Regions from separate parts of the Homo sapiens genome. Here region 1 is linked to region 2. A link means that fine-mapping ties the variant in region 2 to the expression of a gene that starts in the linked region. Tissue or cell type: whole blood. Region 2 holds a variant in brackets; the other region holds the start of a gene. All regions are shown on one strand. Distances are between the middles of the regions. Region 1 holds the start of TAMM41 (TAM41 mitochondrial translocator assembly and maintenance homolog). Region 2 overlaps TAMM41 (TAM41 mitochondrial translocator assembly and maintenance homolog).

Region 1 (8,338 bases), 39 kb after region 2:
AGCTGGACATGATTACAGTAGTGGGCTCTGTAATCCCAGCTACTCGGGAGGCTGAGGCAGGAGAATCGCTTGAACCTGGGAGGCGGAGGTTGCAGTGAGCAGAGATCGCACCATTGCACTCCAGCCTGGGCAACAAGAACAAAACTCCATCTCAAAAAAAAAAAAAAAAAAAGCAGAACCTTGGTGGGGCATGGTGGCTCACACCTGTAAATCCCAGTACTTTGGGAGGACTGTTTGGGGTCAGGAGTTCAAGACCAGCCTGGGCAACATGGCAAAACCCTGTCTCTACAAAAAATACAACAATTAGCCAGGCGTGGTGGTATGTGCCTGTAGCCCCAGCTACTTGGGAGGCTGAGACAGGTAGATGGCTTGAGCCCGGGAGGCAGAGATTGCAATGAGCGGAGATGGTGCCACTGCATTCTAGCCTGGGTGACAGAGCCAGACCCTGTTTCAAAAAAAGAAAAAGAAAAAAAAAAGGCAGAATCTCAGGTTCCATCTCAGACCAACTGAGTCAGGATCTGCACTGAAATGGGATCTCCAGGTGGCTCGATGCCGGCCAAAGCCTGACCGCCTTGAACAATGAGTGGCAGAGCTGGCACAGCAAGTGAAACCCATATGTCATCCCTGGCCCAGGGAAGCTCTAGGAAGCATCTGATTTAGACCCCTACTGATCCTTGCAGGCTGGGGTTCTGCCTAGGTCTTGACAGCTCTCTTGGAGACTGCGATGCTTCAGCTGAAAGACAGTTCAGCAAAGTTCCTGCTGTCAGATGAACCACCAGCAGGAATCCATGCAACTTACCTGCTCTCCAACAGCCCACTGTCAAATTCCACGCGTCTCCTGGCACCAAGAGGTTCCCGTCTATCACCTGACACACATGCTCTCAATCACCTGTGATATCCTCTTCACTTCCAACTTCTTCCTGGGGGTGTCTGCCCCTCCTTCTAGATAAAATCAATCTCCAACCTGACCCAAAATTGGCCTGCCTATTCCTCCCACTGACCAGACCAATGGTTCTAGACCAGCAGCTTCAGCACTGTTTGGAAGTGTGTTAAGAGATGCAAATCTTCAATCCCTACCCCAGACCTAGTGATCAGAACTCTGGGGGTGGGGCCCAGCAATCTGTGTGTCCAATGGACACACAACCTAGGGGATTCTGATGCACACTAAAACTTGAGAACCACTTGGCCAAAGACAAAAAAATAAAGTCAGTGTGGCCGGGCTCAGTGGCTCACGCCTGTAATCCCAGCACTTTGGGAGGCTGAGGCGGGCAGATCACCTGAGGTCAGGAGTTCGAGACCAGCCTGGCCAACATGGTGAAACCCTGTCTCTCCTACAAGGTGGCACACGCCTGTAATCCCAGCTAACTGGGAGGCTGAGGCGGGAGAATCACTTGAACCCGTGAGGCGGAGGTTGCAGTGAGCTGCGATCACACCACTGCACTCCAGCCTGGGCAACAAGAGCAAAACTCCGTCTCAAAAAAATAAAAAAAATAAAATAAGTCAGTCACACCCAACCACCTCCTCACACTGCAATGACAGTTAATGGGACATGAGGAAGGACTCCAGTCCCTGCTCTGTCCCCAAGTTCAAGACGTCTGGCAGGAGTGTGAATGTTTCCTGACTATAAGAATATACATACTATAAAAACATACATATTTCCCGACTATAACAACGTCCAGCAGGAGTGTGAATGTTTCCTGACCACAAGAACATACATATTTAGCTGGCACTCTAATAACCCAGGTAAATAACCAGCCAAGTTAAGACAAAGGCCAGCAGTCACTTACCCTACCATTACACATGATCAATGAATTGTAGTAAACTCCAGCGCCATAGTTATTCTGGATGGACGTGATAATCTTGGGCCCTAAAACTTTTAGGAAAGAGTAGTGACTCCAATTTTTCTTCAGGTTCTTTGAATGCCATGCGACAGGGTCATCTACTGTGAACACAAAGTCCAGCATAGCATTCTGTGGAGTGAAGAAAAGAGAATAATTTCAGTATTAATTCCTAGAAAGGCAGCAAGAGAGCATGGAAAAGCTCTAACATACTACGCAATTATGATCAATAGTCAGAAGGCCTGGTGCTGTCATCAGAAATGTGAGCGAGTCTCTGGAACAAATATGAGCTTTGTTTTCATCAATGTAATAATAGCAAACACTTCTTTAACATGTATTGTTGTGCCAGCACTCTTTAAACACTTTATGGGTAACATACGCAGTCACTCCATTTATCCTCAGCACAACCCTACAAGGTAGCTACTGCTATTATCTCAATTTTATAAGAAACCAAGGCACAGGGGATGCTCTTTGCCCAAGGACACAGAGCTTGTGAGTGGCAGACCTAAGAGGTCTGGCTCCAAACTGTGTGTGCTGAACCACTGCACTACACTGCCTTTCACAAATGTAGCTAAATGTGCTCCGCTTTTCTTCTGGATCAAATTAGCACCACCTGGATAAACTCTACAAAATACTATATAAAAGGAAGTCAGTTATTTTATCTCTTACCTATTCACCAACCACTTATTGAGTACATAAGTAATGAACTCTGACAGGCCCTAGGGTAGAAGTATAGAGCTCAGAGTCTACTGGAGAGAATAAACAAATTATCACTACATTGACTTGATAGAGGAATGCAAAATGTACTAACTGCACTCAGCATAGGGATCAGATCAGGGGCACAGGAGGGAGAAATTCTCCTAGAGATGACAAATCTGAGTCTTGAAGGACACGTGAGTTAAACAGACTTGCTGGAAGCACTGGGGGAAGCACAGGGAAGGGTAGGGAGCCGTGTTGGAGGAAAGTGCTCTGTGGATATGGGAGCCAGCATGTTCTGGAAGCTGCCGTCAGATATGACTGAAATAGAACACATTTATGCGGTGGGAGATGAGATCAGAGAGGGAGGCTGTTTGCCATGCTAGAAAATTTTCCTGCAGAAGAGCTGACTGGAGAGAAGAGGGACTAAGGGGGTGGGGGAATTAGATCTGAAGCCATGGCAAGATTCCAGGGGAGAAATGAAATTATATTAGCTAAGGCGCTAAGGATGGGGACTGATGTGAGAAAGATGTAGGTGTTGGAATCTACAACTTGTTCACTTGAATGTAAGGAATCAAAAGTGAGGGAATGGGAAGGAAGGACCTTTTCTTGCAGGGAATTCCAGGTCTATTCAAAGGAAAACCTCCATGGAAGAATGAAGAGGTGGCCATCAGGAGGCTAACGCCTGCTCTGTAGAGTGTGACTCTACAGACCACTGGGGACACTTGAGATTTGGTGGCGAGGCAGGTATGGAATAAACATGTTTTTTAAAAATGTGTAATTATGTTAAGGTAAATTCGGGAAAAATAACTAGCCTATAATAACCTATAATTTCTCATATGCTGCCAATTTAAAGAAAAATATTAAATAGTAGTGTAAGTGGGAAACAGAGGAAATCCAAGCAACAGCATAGATGGCCTCACCAGGAAGTGAACAGGCAGGATGTTAATCAGAAGACAGACTACAGTCAGGTATCCAGACGCAGGGGGCCCCATTAAAACCTGCACACTGAATTCTGCAAATTACAAGGAAAACTGTACCCTTACTGAGGCTGTGCTGAGCCAACTCTGAAAAGTAACAATGCCTAGTCTCAAACAGACCGTTGTTAAAAGTGCTGAGCGAGGGTAAATACACTGGTCACGCACTAACTTTTGATGTTAGTTACTTTCACTGCACCTGCCCTGGCCCTACAACCAGTCCGCCAACTTCCTGAAGTCAGAAGATCATTTTGCATTTTCTCCTACATTTATAGAGGTGACTCTCAACAAACTTGGCTGCGCATTAGAATCACCTGGGACGTTTCTTAAATTCCTGAAGCCCAGGCCTCATCCCAAACCAATTAAATCAGAATCTCCATCGGCGGAAGCCGAGCATTAGGATTTTCTTAAAAGCTCCCCAGAAAATTCCGATGTCCAGCCGACTAAAACACTGAAAGAACCTGATAACGATTTCTTTTCCTTTCTTCCATTTGCCCCTGCAGCAGTTTTTCCTTCTGCCTAACTGCTTCTCCTGCTCTAGACCCACGTGGATTCCTAAGTATCCTTCAACACCGTCGCTTCAACTCGCGCTGTCGTTATACTAGGAAGGCAGGCCTATGGTTCACTCTGCTAGTGGACACGTGGAGTGTGCAGAGCGGACAGGCAGCTCTCCGACTCTGAAGGAATCGAGGGCAAAACGGGACTCGTGAGAACAGACAGTTCCCCGTCGTGGGGCTGCCCGGGCTCACCTTCTGGTCTGAACTCGGCCCTGCCTGGCGGTACACCCCGGAGCCGTAGACGAAAGCCAGACTCAGCTCCTCGGGGAAGTGAGACAGGATCTTGCGGAAGGTCACCCACGAGCTCTGCAGCGTCTGCAGCGCCATGGGGTCGAGGCTAACAGGGGACACTCAGCGCAGCAGGGCGAGGACAACCGGGCGGGGAACAGACACCGGGTAGGCGGTTTAGGGTGGGAAATGGAAGTCGGAGACTGGATCGAGGGACACAAGGCTGAGTGTGGGGTGGGACTGCAAGCACACGCAAGGATTGGGGCGTTGGGCCACGAAGAGCAGCGGCGAGAAGACGCAGCCCAGATAGGCTCGGGTGGGCGGCGGTCGCACAGGCAGAGCTTCCGTCCCTTGCTACGCCCCACGCACGCACAGGCGCTTCCAAGACGCAAGAGGCGGTGCTCGCCTTAGTGTGGGGAACGCGAGGCTTTGCATTGTCCCCTCGTGGTCGGAGGAGTGCCCTACAGGCTGGCGGCTAGGTTGCGACTTGGACAAATCGGCGGAGGCGAGCGTCACCCGACTCCGCGGGCCCTGAGCCTTGATAGCCTCTGTACTTCTCTCTTCAAACTACGGTTTAAAGAATGACTATAAAATCGGGAGCGTATTGAAGGTTTTTAAGTGAGGCGACACTCACATAATATGGAACTAGCCGTTCTGAAATGGACAGTGTAGTAGCATGTAGTGCCTTCACAATATTGTGCCCCCATCATCGCTCTAGTTCCAAAATTGCAGATTTCGAAGATTTGGAAAAACACAAAATTAAAATGATGCCCAATCCCGCCATGTAGAGAATACCACCGTCAAGATTTGACGGAGACTTCTTCACGCTAAAGCCCTTTTCAAATACAAGGGTGGATATGGGAGTGCACAGACGTTCTCTGATACTTGCATTTAATTTCAAGGGTGGATCACAGTTTTTGCCCCCTTGCCTTGTGGAATGGTCTCACAAAGGGTGCTTCAAATGCAGTTTCTGGAGGAAACAGGACCCTAGGAGTAGAAAAATCTTACAGCTCTCCTCTTTGTATAACTGGAGAAACTTGCTGAAGATTACCATTCAGGAGGTGGTTTGACTTCCAGGACAGAAACTTTTTCAACTACCCTCTCCTTCCTCCCCAAAATACACTACCTCTCAAAAATAATAGAAATAGTAATAGCTAACATTCAGGTAATGTTGACACATTTTCACATGCACTTCTCACTGAGCACCCTCTAGTGCCCTGTGGCAGGAGGGCCTTGGTTTTACTGATGGCCAAGCTAAGGCTTAGAGAGGTAAAGCCAGGTGATAGGATCACATCAGCCTGTGGCAAAACTAGAGCTAAACCCAGGTCTGGCTCCAACTCTGGGATTTTTTCGGAAATTCTGCTCTGTCCTTGAAGGGTTTTGAGCAAGGACTTATGTAATTCACATGTTAGCCTGAATTGTGGGGGACTGATTAGACAGTTGTTATCATAGTTCCCCCATGAACTGGAAACGGCTAGGCCAAGGTCTTAGGAGCAGGGATGGGATTAAATCAATTGGAAAAATGATTACTTGCACTCACACTCTGGGCCTGCACTGAGATGAAGAGATCTGAGCTGCCTGCTGCCCTGCAGGAGCTAGGGGTCTGTAGAGGAGAGGAGACAGAACTGCAAATCAGAGTAGAATTTGGGTAATGCAGCCAGGTACCCAGCACAGTGCCGGAATGTAATGTCCCTCCAATGGGAACGTCAGTCAGTTCTGGGTGTTGGGGAAAGGGACCAGAAGAGGTTTCACAATGATGGCATTTTGAGCCAGGCCTGGAAGCTGGGTAGGAGTTTATCAGGTAGAAGATAGATGGGAAAATTCAACCAAGAAAGAATTGAAAGGACTCGGTGACAATAATACTAATAATAGGTGTCATTATTAAGCACTTAGTATGCCCAGGCACTTTTTAGACTTCTTTGGGGCTTTTCTGTTTTTGTTTTTTTTTTGAGACCGAGTCTTGCTCTGTTGCCCAGGCTGGAGTGCAGTGGCACGATCTCAGCTCACTGTGACCTCTGCCTCCTGGGTTCAAGCAAGCATGCCTGGCTAATTGTTGTATTTTTAGTAGAGATGGGGTTTCACTGTGTTGGCCAGGCTGGTCTCGAAATCCTGACCTCTAGTGATTTGCCCACCTCAGCCTCCCAAAGTGCTGGAATTACAGGCGTGAGCCACTGCACCCAGGCTTTTTATACTTGTTTCTTTTCATCACTCCAGAGATCCTATGAGGCAGGTTCTCTAAGATGATGATATTTTTCATACGAGGAAACAGAGGTCCTAAGAGGAGCAGTAAATGTTCCAAAGTCACACAGGAAAGTGGTGAAGTCGGGGTTTGAACCTAGGGCTACCTACCTCTAAAGGCCAAGGTCTTTACCACCATGTTTAAGTGTCCTCTACAGCGGCTTGCAGGGTGAGAGAAGGAAATGGGAAGAAAGCAGGCACTCAGGCATCAGCCAAGAGTCAGGAGCAGCAGCAGTAGCCGCAGCAACAAGCAGGAGACCAGGGCAAGGGAGCGGAGAGAGGCCGTTTGTCTGCGGCCCCTGGTGTGGGCATGGTCACTTCCGTTCATTTTTACTACATATCGCCCTTGCCCAGGGTGCCGGAATCAGAGTGCACTCACCGTGGAATTACACTGAAGCCTCTCACCCAAAGACAGTGAATAAATCTCATTACCAGCCGGTTCCTTTTTTATTTCCTTCCTTCCCTTGGGGAAATAATTCAACGTCATTGGATTTTTCCTGTTTGCAAAAGTAATCCATGTTCATAAAAATGTAAACATTATGAAATACATACATCATGCCCCAGAAATAGCCACGGTAATCTTTGGCACATATTCCTTCCAATATTTTTCTATGAATATATTAACATTAAAAACAATTTTAAGTGGATTCCTAGGATAGATACTATTTTGCAATTTGCTTTTTTTGCACTTAGCGTATCAGGGACAATGTTCTGTGTCAGAATATATAGATTTCCCTCATTCCATGTATTAGTAGCAAATTATTCTAAGATATGGATATGCCATAATTTTGTTTAAAATTTTTTGTTTAAAAGAAAGTGTTTAAACATTTTCTTTCTCTTTCTTTCTTTCTTCTTTTCTTTTGTTTCTTTCTTTTTTTTTTTTTTTTTTTGAGAGCGAGTCTTGCTCTGTCACCCAGGCTGGAGTGCAGTGGCACAATCTAGGCTCCCTGCAACCTCCACCATCCGGGTTGAAGTGATTCTCCTGCCTCAGCCTCCTGAGTAGCTGGGATTACAGGTGCCCGCCACCACATCTGGCTAAGTTTTGTATTTTTCGTAGAGACAGGGGTTTCACTATGTTGGCCAGGCTGGTCTCGAACTCCTGACCTCAAGTGATCCACCCGCCTCGGCCTCCCAAAGTGCTGGGGTTACAGGCATCCTGGCCTGTTTAAACATTTTATTGTTGATGGATGTAGGTTATTTCTAGTTTTCACACCTGCAAACAATGCTATCATGAGCATCCTTGTACATTTTATGTGCATGAACAAGTATTGCTATAAGACAGATTCCTAGAAGGGGAATTGCTGGGTCAGAGTGTCAGCACGCTGCTAAATTCCCCTCCAAAAGATGGTGCCAATTCACACACCCACCAGCAGAGTTCAGCCCTTGATAGAAATAAAGATGCTGCAATGTTTCTCCATTTGTCTCCCTTACAGGCGTTCACACCCAATTATCAGCAATTTTCATGTTCACAAACACTTTTCTTCCTGCAATGCAAAACCACCAGCTGGAAGGTTCCATCACATTCCTGTGTGCATTTTGCCTTTCCCCAGAAAGAGGCAGAAGCAACGTAGCCACGAACACATTTGTATTCTTCAGCAGAAATCTCCCTGCTCCTGGCCCTTCATCCACCCACTCTCTTTTAAATTACCATGGCTTGTGAAATTAGAGGCTATTAGGAAGACCCAGTGTTCTATATAATCGCTTTAGGGTTCTGTTGGAAAGCTTATACCAATGAAATAAACATGTTAGAGAGCCACTTACAAATATAGATAAATGCCTGGTGACTCGAGTGAATATTGGGCCT
Region 2 (8,338 bases):
GCAATGATATGGAATTAACCAAAGTGTCCATCAATGGAGGACTGGATAACAAAAATGTGTATATATCTACATCTATATCTCACCTTGAATACTACTTAGCCATAACAAAGAATGAAATAATGTCTTTTGCAGCAAGATGGATAGAACTGGAGGCCACGTGTATAAGTGAAATAACTCAGAAACAGAAATTCAAGTATCACATGTTCTCACTTTAAGTGGGAGCTAAACAATGTGTATGCATGAGCATACAGAATAGAATGACACTGGTGACTATAAAAAGTGTGAGGGTGGGAGGAGATGAGGGTTGGAAAATTACCTATTGGGTACAATATTCACTATTTGGGTGATGATGGGTACACTAAAAGCCCAGACTTCACCATGTAAGAAAAATGCACTTGTATTCCTTAAACGTTTTAAAAATTAAAAAGAAAAAAAAGTGAAGGGGAAGCAAGCAGTAAGCACTCAGGGGAAGCAGCATCAGCACTCCAGGGCCACAAGGACAGCTGAGCTGTGGGTTCTGTGATCAACTGCCCTCTGCTGGTGAGTAGAAATAATGAGTGGAAAGAGGACCAAAGGCTCATTTCAGGTTGAAGGTGTCAAGAAGATCTTTTTCAGCCTTTTATTAGAGAAAAATTCAAACTTAAATAACAGACAGAAGAGTATAAAACAGCCCCATGCATCTTTACCTAGCTTTGACAATATATCAGCTCATGGCCAATCTTGTGTCATCTACCCATTACCCACTGCCCTCTGCCATGTTTTATTTTGAAGCAAATCCCAGACAACATATCATTGCATCTGGAATTATTTTAGTATGCATCTCTAAAAGAAAGGGAATTTTTTAAAAAGCTCCATAACACCACCATTGTCACAACTGAAAAATAATTAACAATAATTCTAATAATTCCAATAATTCCTTATAGCATGGGACGCCAACAACAAAACAAATCATTAAGCCTCACCCAAGGAGGATCATGGCAAGGGAAAGGCAATCATGCAAAATTCAGATTAACAGCATGAATCACCCAAACAAACAAAAGTACCTCATCTTCAGTCTTGCCAGAGTAAACTAGCAGGAACATAGATTAAATGAATATCTTAACTGGAAATGCAAAGCCATGCACCCAAATGGTAGGAAAATCTTTAGTTCAGCAGATGTGACACAAGTGCTACTAAGTCTTTGTTGAAACTTTTATACAATGTTTTTATTATTATAATTTTTTTTTTTTTTGAGACAGGGTCTCACTCTGTCACCCAGACTGAAGTGCAGTGGTGCGTTCTTAGCTCAATGCCGCCTCGACTTCCTGGGCTCAGGACTACGGGCGCGCACCACCACGCCCAGCCCTTTTTTTTTTTTTTTTTTTTTTTTTTTTGAGACGAAGTCTCACTCTCGCCCAGGCCAGAGGCAGTGGCACAATCTTGGCTCACTGCAACTTCCGCCTCCCAGGTTCAAGCAATTCTCCTGCCTCAGCCGCTCAAAGGTGGGACTACAGGCATGTGCCACCACGCCCAGCTAATTTTTTGTATTTTAGTAGAGACGGGGTTTCACCATGTTGCCCAGGCTGGTCTCAAACCCCTGAGCTCGGGCAATCTGCCTGTCTCGGCCTCCCAAAGTACTAGGATTACAGGCATGAGTCACCACATCCAGCCTATTTTTTCTATTTTTTTAGAGACAGGGTTCCACCATGTTGCCCAGGCTGATCTCAAACTCCAGGACTCAAGTGATCCTCCTGCCTTGGCCTCCCAAAGTGCTGGGATTATAGGTGTGAGCCACCGCATCTGGCCTATTTTTGTTATTTTTAAAGAGACAGGGTCTTGCTGTGTTGCCCAGACTGGTCTTGAACTCTTGAGCCCAAGCAATCCTCCCGCCCTGGCCTCCCAAAGTGCTGGGATTATAAGTGTGAGCCACCATGCCTGGCCTTGTTGAATCTTTCCAGTGATTCAGGAGGGCAACACGGTCCTTGAGGGCCAAATGCTCAGAGGAGTATCCAAGCAGCTGGGCTATGAGACACTGAGAGGTGTGACCATACCAGCTCCCCAGCAATCTCAAACCCAGGGATTAGAATTAGGTTGAAAGATCACTCCCCTTTTTGGGCTACCTCTGTGCTATTTCTCCCTCTCTTGCAAATTTCTGTTAGCATGTCTCTTTTCCCTTCTAAATTATACGCCTCTGCAAGTCAGTATAGCATTTGATATGGTTTGGCTCTGTGTTCCCACCCAAATCTTACCCTGAATTGTAATAATCCCCACGTCGTGGGAGGGACCTGGTGGGAGGTAATTGAATCACGAAGGCAGGTCTTTCCTGTGCTGTTTTCATAATAGTGAATAAGTGTTACGAGATCTGATGGTTCTATAAAAGGGAGCTCCCCTGCACATGCTCTCTTGCCTGCCGCCATGTAAGACATGATTTTGCTCCTCATTCACCTTCCGCCATGATTCTGAGACACCCCCAGCCATGTGGAACTGCTAATCAATTAAACCTCTTTCCTTTATAAATTACCCAGTCTGAGGTATGTCTTTATTAGCAGCATGAGAACAGACTAACGCAGCGTTGTGTTCACTTTTGTATCCCGAGCAGCTGGCACATGAGAGATGCTCAATGGATGCTTGCATGAAGAAAGCCTGAACTAGAAAAGTCTATCACTTGATGATGCCAAATGTTGGAAAAAATGGGAAGAAAAGAGTATTCTCCTACTCTGCTTGTGGGACGATGAACTGATACAGCCACTTTGTCCTCCAAAGAGATGTCAAATATTTAGGCCATAAAACAAGAATAGGATGCAAAAAACAGGAGCATTCAGAGAACAGCAAGAAAAGAGAGAGTTCCTGGAAATTATAAACACTCAACAGAAGGGTTGGAAGCTAAAGTTGAGAAATTCGAGAAAATCTTCCAAAGCAGAGCAAAAGAAAAACAGATAAAAAATAGAAGACAAAAGAAAGAAAACCAAAGACTAATCTAGGGGGTGCAATATCTGAATAAAAGGAGTTCCAGAAAGAGAACAGAGAAAACAGATGGGACAAAATTAAAGAAAAAATTTAAAACATTTTTCTTATATGCTTATATTCTGAGTTTCCCAACAGAAAGGGCAATGAATTCCCGGTAAAACAGATAAAACAGATAAAAACAGACTCACATCAAAGCACATCACTGAGAGAATTCAGAGCACTGGGGAAAAATAAAGACCTAACATGCTTCCAGAAATAACATACACAAAGGATTAAGAATCAGATTGGCTTTAGACATAGACAACAATCCTAGAAGTAAAAGATAAATGCAGCAATGATCTCAAAATTTTAAAGGAAAGTGATTTCTAATCAATACCCAGCCTAAGTATTAACTATGGGTGAAGACAGACAAAAAAGACTTTCAGACATACGTGGTCTCCAAATGTGCCTTCCATGTTCCCCTTCTCAGGAAATTACTGGAAAATGTGCTTCACCAAAATGAGAGTGTGCACCAAGCAAGTGAAAGACATGAGATACAGTAAATGGGGGACCCCCTAGAGGGGACAGCGAAGACACTCTCCATGAGAGAAGAACATTATGCAGGGAAGGAAAGGTGTACTCTGTGGCTCACCATACCATCAAACTGAAAACTAATTAGCCAAAACCACCAGACAACTATATTAGGAGGACAGAGGGATGGGAGGGTGCGTACATTTGATGAGGGTGGGTGCCAGAGTTGACTTCTAACCTCCCATAGAGAGAAGTCAATAGATGATACCTAAAGTTGAAACGTAGAGAAGGAGCAACGAAAACTTACCATTTAGAGAAATGGCAGTAACAACAAAAATAACCCACTAAGACAGATGGAAGCAGTTGTCTCAGAGAAGGGGAAGAGGAGGGGGAGCACAGATGCTGCTGTTTTTGCAATCCTATGCATCTGTAACTTTGATAAATAAAACAATATGAGGGAAAAACCCTGCACACAGGAAGTGTCTCAGAAAATTCAGAAGGGCAGTAAAGCTTCCAACAGCACTGCCAATGGTCTGACATTGTTCGACCACCAGGTTCTGCTGCTGTTATGCCTGTTTGTACCTTACTGCAATATCCCAGTTTATGGCCATCAAAGCTCAGCATTTCACAAGCACCTAAAAGATACAAAGCTTTACACTGTAACCAAGAGTGTGGAAGCCACTCAGTCAGCAGGTATGTTACACACGGATTTCCAAAGCTCTTACCAGCAGTAAAAATGCCTTTCGTGCTCTGTCTTATACTAGACGGTCTCACGATTGCTGAAAGCCCTGCGAGAAAAAAACCAAAAAGGAGACCAAAAAAACCCAAAACAGATGTTAGTCATCTTAACAGTTTTAAAACTTGAAACTAAATATTCTTTCTAGTCAGCCAATCAAACCACCAAATCTATCTCTGTCCTGCTGTCACAGTGACAATGAAAAGGGCAGTGGGATTGAGGGCCAGGAGACCAGAGCAGCCAGCCGTGGCGCCACCCGGCTGTGTGAGTCCAAGCCGATGACCGAACAGCTCTGTGCCTCTTCCCCTTAAAACAAGGGGATGGGTTAGCTGACCCTCAAAGGGCATTTTATGACTTAAATCTGCTTGAGATTTCTGGTTCTCAATTCCATAACATGAAAAGATAAAAACCAAATGATTACATCTACGAGAAAAACTTTCATTCTGAAAACACACATACGGATTCCACAGTGAGGAACAAGTTTCACTC[A/C]CCTCAAAGAGACGGCCCAGATCACACTGTTGCCAGGATCATGTTCAAACAAACAACAGTGTGCCTCGTACAGAGCTATCTTCAGGATGGGGAGCTGGTGACCTAAACACACACTCTGCAAACCTAGTGCAGGCCCAGGAGGAGAGTGGGCGTGGAGCGCCTGCTGCAGCTCATCCACTGCAGTGCGATGGTCTTTGCAAAGCATTACTGGAAATTCTATCTGGCACGCGGAGGAGCTCAGTAAATATTTACTGAATGAAAACAGGAGAATGCACTCAATTGACAGAGGGACTCATTCTCAATTTCATAAATATTTCTTGATTGACTGATCTCATAAATTACCTTTAGCACCTTAAAGGGAAGTTAGTCTCTGAAGATAAGGTTCAGGCTCTTTTTTTTGTTTGTTTTTTAAGAGATACGGGCTGCTCTATCACCAAGCCTGGAGTGTAGTGGTGCGATCCTAGCTCATTGCAGCCTCCAACTGCTCAAGCGATCCTCCCACCTCAGACTCCCAAGTTAGCTGAGATTATAGGCATGTGCCACCATGCCCAGCTACTTTTGTAATTTTTGCAGAGACAGGGTCTTGCTCTGTTGCCCAAGCTGGTCTCAAACTCCTGGCCTCAAGTGATTCTCCCTCCTGGACTTCCTAAAGTGTTGGGAGTACAGGCGTGAGCCACTGCACCTGGCCTGGGTTCAGAGTTTTGGATAAACATCAGGGCAGTGCTGGGGAAAATGCTGTGGAACGTGGGCCATGTCTGAGGGAATGTACTCAACAATGTATGAGACACATCAAATGGAGTTGATTGAGGAAAGCTGTGTTCTCGATGTTATAAAAGCACAAAAAAATGCCACCAATCTCTTTTCTCAGACCACCACAAAACACAGACACATCTTTTAAATAAATTCTAGAAGTTGTGCTCTAGGAACCAAAAGAAACATTGTTTCTCCCTTTGACAGTGATTTAGGATCCAGGAATTTAAAAACAGAAGTATTTTCACCATCTTACTTCAAACAAATAAAAATGCAGATTTAGAAAACCCTCAAATTTTTAGTGCTTTCTTCTTCTGAGAGGCAATCTCTCTATCTCGCTAAACAAAAAGGAAGAAATAATACATTCCAATCACAAACAAAGTCTGCTTTTCCCCATGGCTGGCATTTCCTCAACATCAAATTCATAAACGTACCTAGTCGCACCACATCTCCACAGTCGGGATCATGAGCCACTTGGAATAAAGTTTCTTCCACATCTCTGTTTTTTCCAGGAGGGTCCATAATATGATTTATCTGTTGCTGTAAGGTTTTGGGCAATGTCATCAGCTGAGTGAACTGTCCTTCTGGGCTTTTATCTATCTGAAGGGAGGAAAAAAAAGACGACGTCTATGGAAGTGCTTTAAATCCTACAAATACTCCAAAACTCAGGGCTTCTCTTTAAAAATCACACAAACATATATGCACCCACACCCCTGGCGAGGCAGCAAGCTAAGGAAACTCTCTTTTTCTGAAACTGAATGGGTAAGTGTTCAGGAGTCTAAGTCCCTTCAAAAAGGACAATTCTTGTCCTATAATATTCCATTTCTACCTGAGAAAAGAATAGAAGCCACTCTCAAGGATCAATTTCTGACTTTTGGTTTTAAAATTTATATTTGTCTTAAATCCAGCAGTCAAAGGAAGTGGTGCTGCAGTTGACACTCGTGGAGGCCGCGTCAAATCCAGGCACTGAGATGACCCCTCCCATTTCAAACACAGGGAGACTGGCGTGCCCTGATCACATCACCAATGAGAGTAAGTGGGATCTGAATTGTGTCTCCTGCCTGTAGGGCCTTTTAGTATGCTGTATTTCACAAACTGTAGGAATACACTGATGACAGAAACTAATCTTACTTACTTTTAATCCCCAGCACACAGTAGGTACTCAAAAAACAATAAGGAAATGAGTAACTGAATCAATACAACTTAGTTGTCCTAAAGCTACTATGCCAGCGGCTTCGGTTCCCAAAGTATTCTAAAACATACTAAGGTGCTGAAGATAAATATATAAATAAAACATGTAAAACTATGTGTCAGACTTTACTCAGAAACCCTTGAATCAAAAGTTAGCCACAGAGCTGAGGCCAGACCTAGCTTTCCTAACTCCAAGTTTCATACACTGTGCCTCGTGGAATGAATTTTTAAAAATCTTGTAAACATTGATTTCCTGCCAAGTGCAGAACCAGTAACACTGCCCTCAACAGCCCATCACATTATTTCCCAAGGAAGAATCTGTCTTGTATCCTTTTAACAAATATTTAGGTTTTAACTTCAACTAAGAGAAGAGTAAGAAAAAATCAGATCAATGTATTACATTTTAGGCTTAGAGTTTACAGATAGGACGAACTTTCTTAATAATTAGAATCCACTCATTCTACCATTTTTTAAATTGAATAAATATTTATTAAGTACATACCAAATGGGCCAGGAGCACAGGTTCACACCTGTAATCCCAACAGTTTGGGAGGCTGAGGCAGGAGAATTGCTTGAGCACAAAAATTCAACATCAGCCCTAGCAAAAGAGTGAGATATCCGGCTCTACGAAAAAAAAAAAGAAAACAAAAAAAAGCCAGACATGGTGGTGCAAGCCTACAGTTCTGTCTACTTGGGAGGCTGAGGTGGGAGGATCACTTGAGCCTGGGAAGTTGAGGCTACGATGAGTGGTGATTGTGCCACTGCACTACAGCCTGGGTGACAAGACCAAGATGGTATCAAAAAAAACAAAAAAGTATATACCAAATACCTGAATTTTCTAGTTTTGTCTATAAACTCTATGAAGAGAAGGAGAAAAATGTTATTATTTAATGGCTCCATAAAGCTAGAGGGGTAAATATTTAGGTTTTTATCTAAATATTTGATATTTATCACTAGGATGGTTCTAAATTCACAGGCCCCATCCTCTACTTAGCTTTGGCTACAAAAATGACAACAAATTTGAGTATTTATGTAAAATAATCTTAGAAATGACATTTATGGACTTATGTTTTGAGGCCACATATTGGGATTAGTTAGAATAAACTTATATTTAAGTTATGCTTTACCTATGAAGCTTCCAACGGCTTGAGTGACATATAAAAAAATTAGAAAGTACTTATCTGCCACTGCTTTCTCTTGAGGAAAATAATGCACTGGAATTTTCACTTGAAAGCATGAGTGTAAAGATAAAATACCAGGTGACATGATTTAAAAATTTGGTAAATTCTCATTTTCCTTACACTAACTCTCATTAAAATAACGAAAGTGAAAGCATTCAGCTAAACTGTGAAAGTCAAATTGCATTTTAAAAGCGGACATGGATACAATTATTATATGTCAACTTAAGAAAAAAGCAGATATGGAAAAAACTTTATATGATTCCATGCATATGAACTGTCCAGAACAGAAAAATTACAGAGACAGAAGTGGATTAGTGGTTGCCTGGGTGAGGGGAGAGCTGGGGACGGCTAAAGGGTATGGAGTGACAGAAATATTCTAAAATTACATTGTGGTGATGGCTGTGCAGCTCTGTGACTATACTATAAACACTAGCTTTTATGGTGTATGAGGTATTCATCAATAAAGCTAATATTTTGTTATTATTATTTTTGAGACAGAGTCTCGCTCTGTTGCCCAGGCTGGAGTGCAGTGGCG

What was found.
Region 1: TAMM41 starts here. The variant in region 2 is fine-mapped to the expression of TAMM41 in whole blood (TOPMed, PIP above 0.99). The same link has a PIP of 0.9 or more in aorta, blood mononuclear cells, cerebellar hemisphere, cerebellum, cerebral cortex and esophagus mucosa.

Annotation. Positions count from the first base shown.
Region 1 is chr3:11,842,242-11,850,579 of GRCh38, forward strand. It overlaps TAMM41 (TAM41 mitochondrial translocator assembly and maintenance homolog), which reads right to left and starts at 4,644. Exons shown (of 8, transcript NM_001284401.2): 1 at 4,261-4,644; 2 at 1,788-1,970. The coding sequence starts at 4,395.
Region 2 is chr3:11,803,652-11,811,989 of GRCh38, forward strand. TAMM41 (TAM41 mitochondrial translocator assembly and maintenance homolog) reads right to left here. Exons shown (of 8, transcript NM_001284401.2): 6 at 5,866-6,031; 7 at 4,182-4,244. Among named protein-coding and RNA genes, the nearest start is that of TAMM41, 39 kb to the right of the region's middle. The variant A/C (reference allele first, on the strand shown) is at 4,682.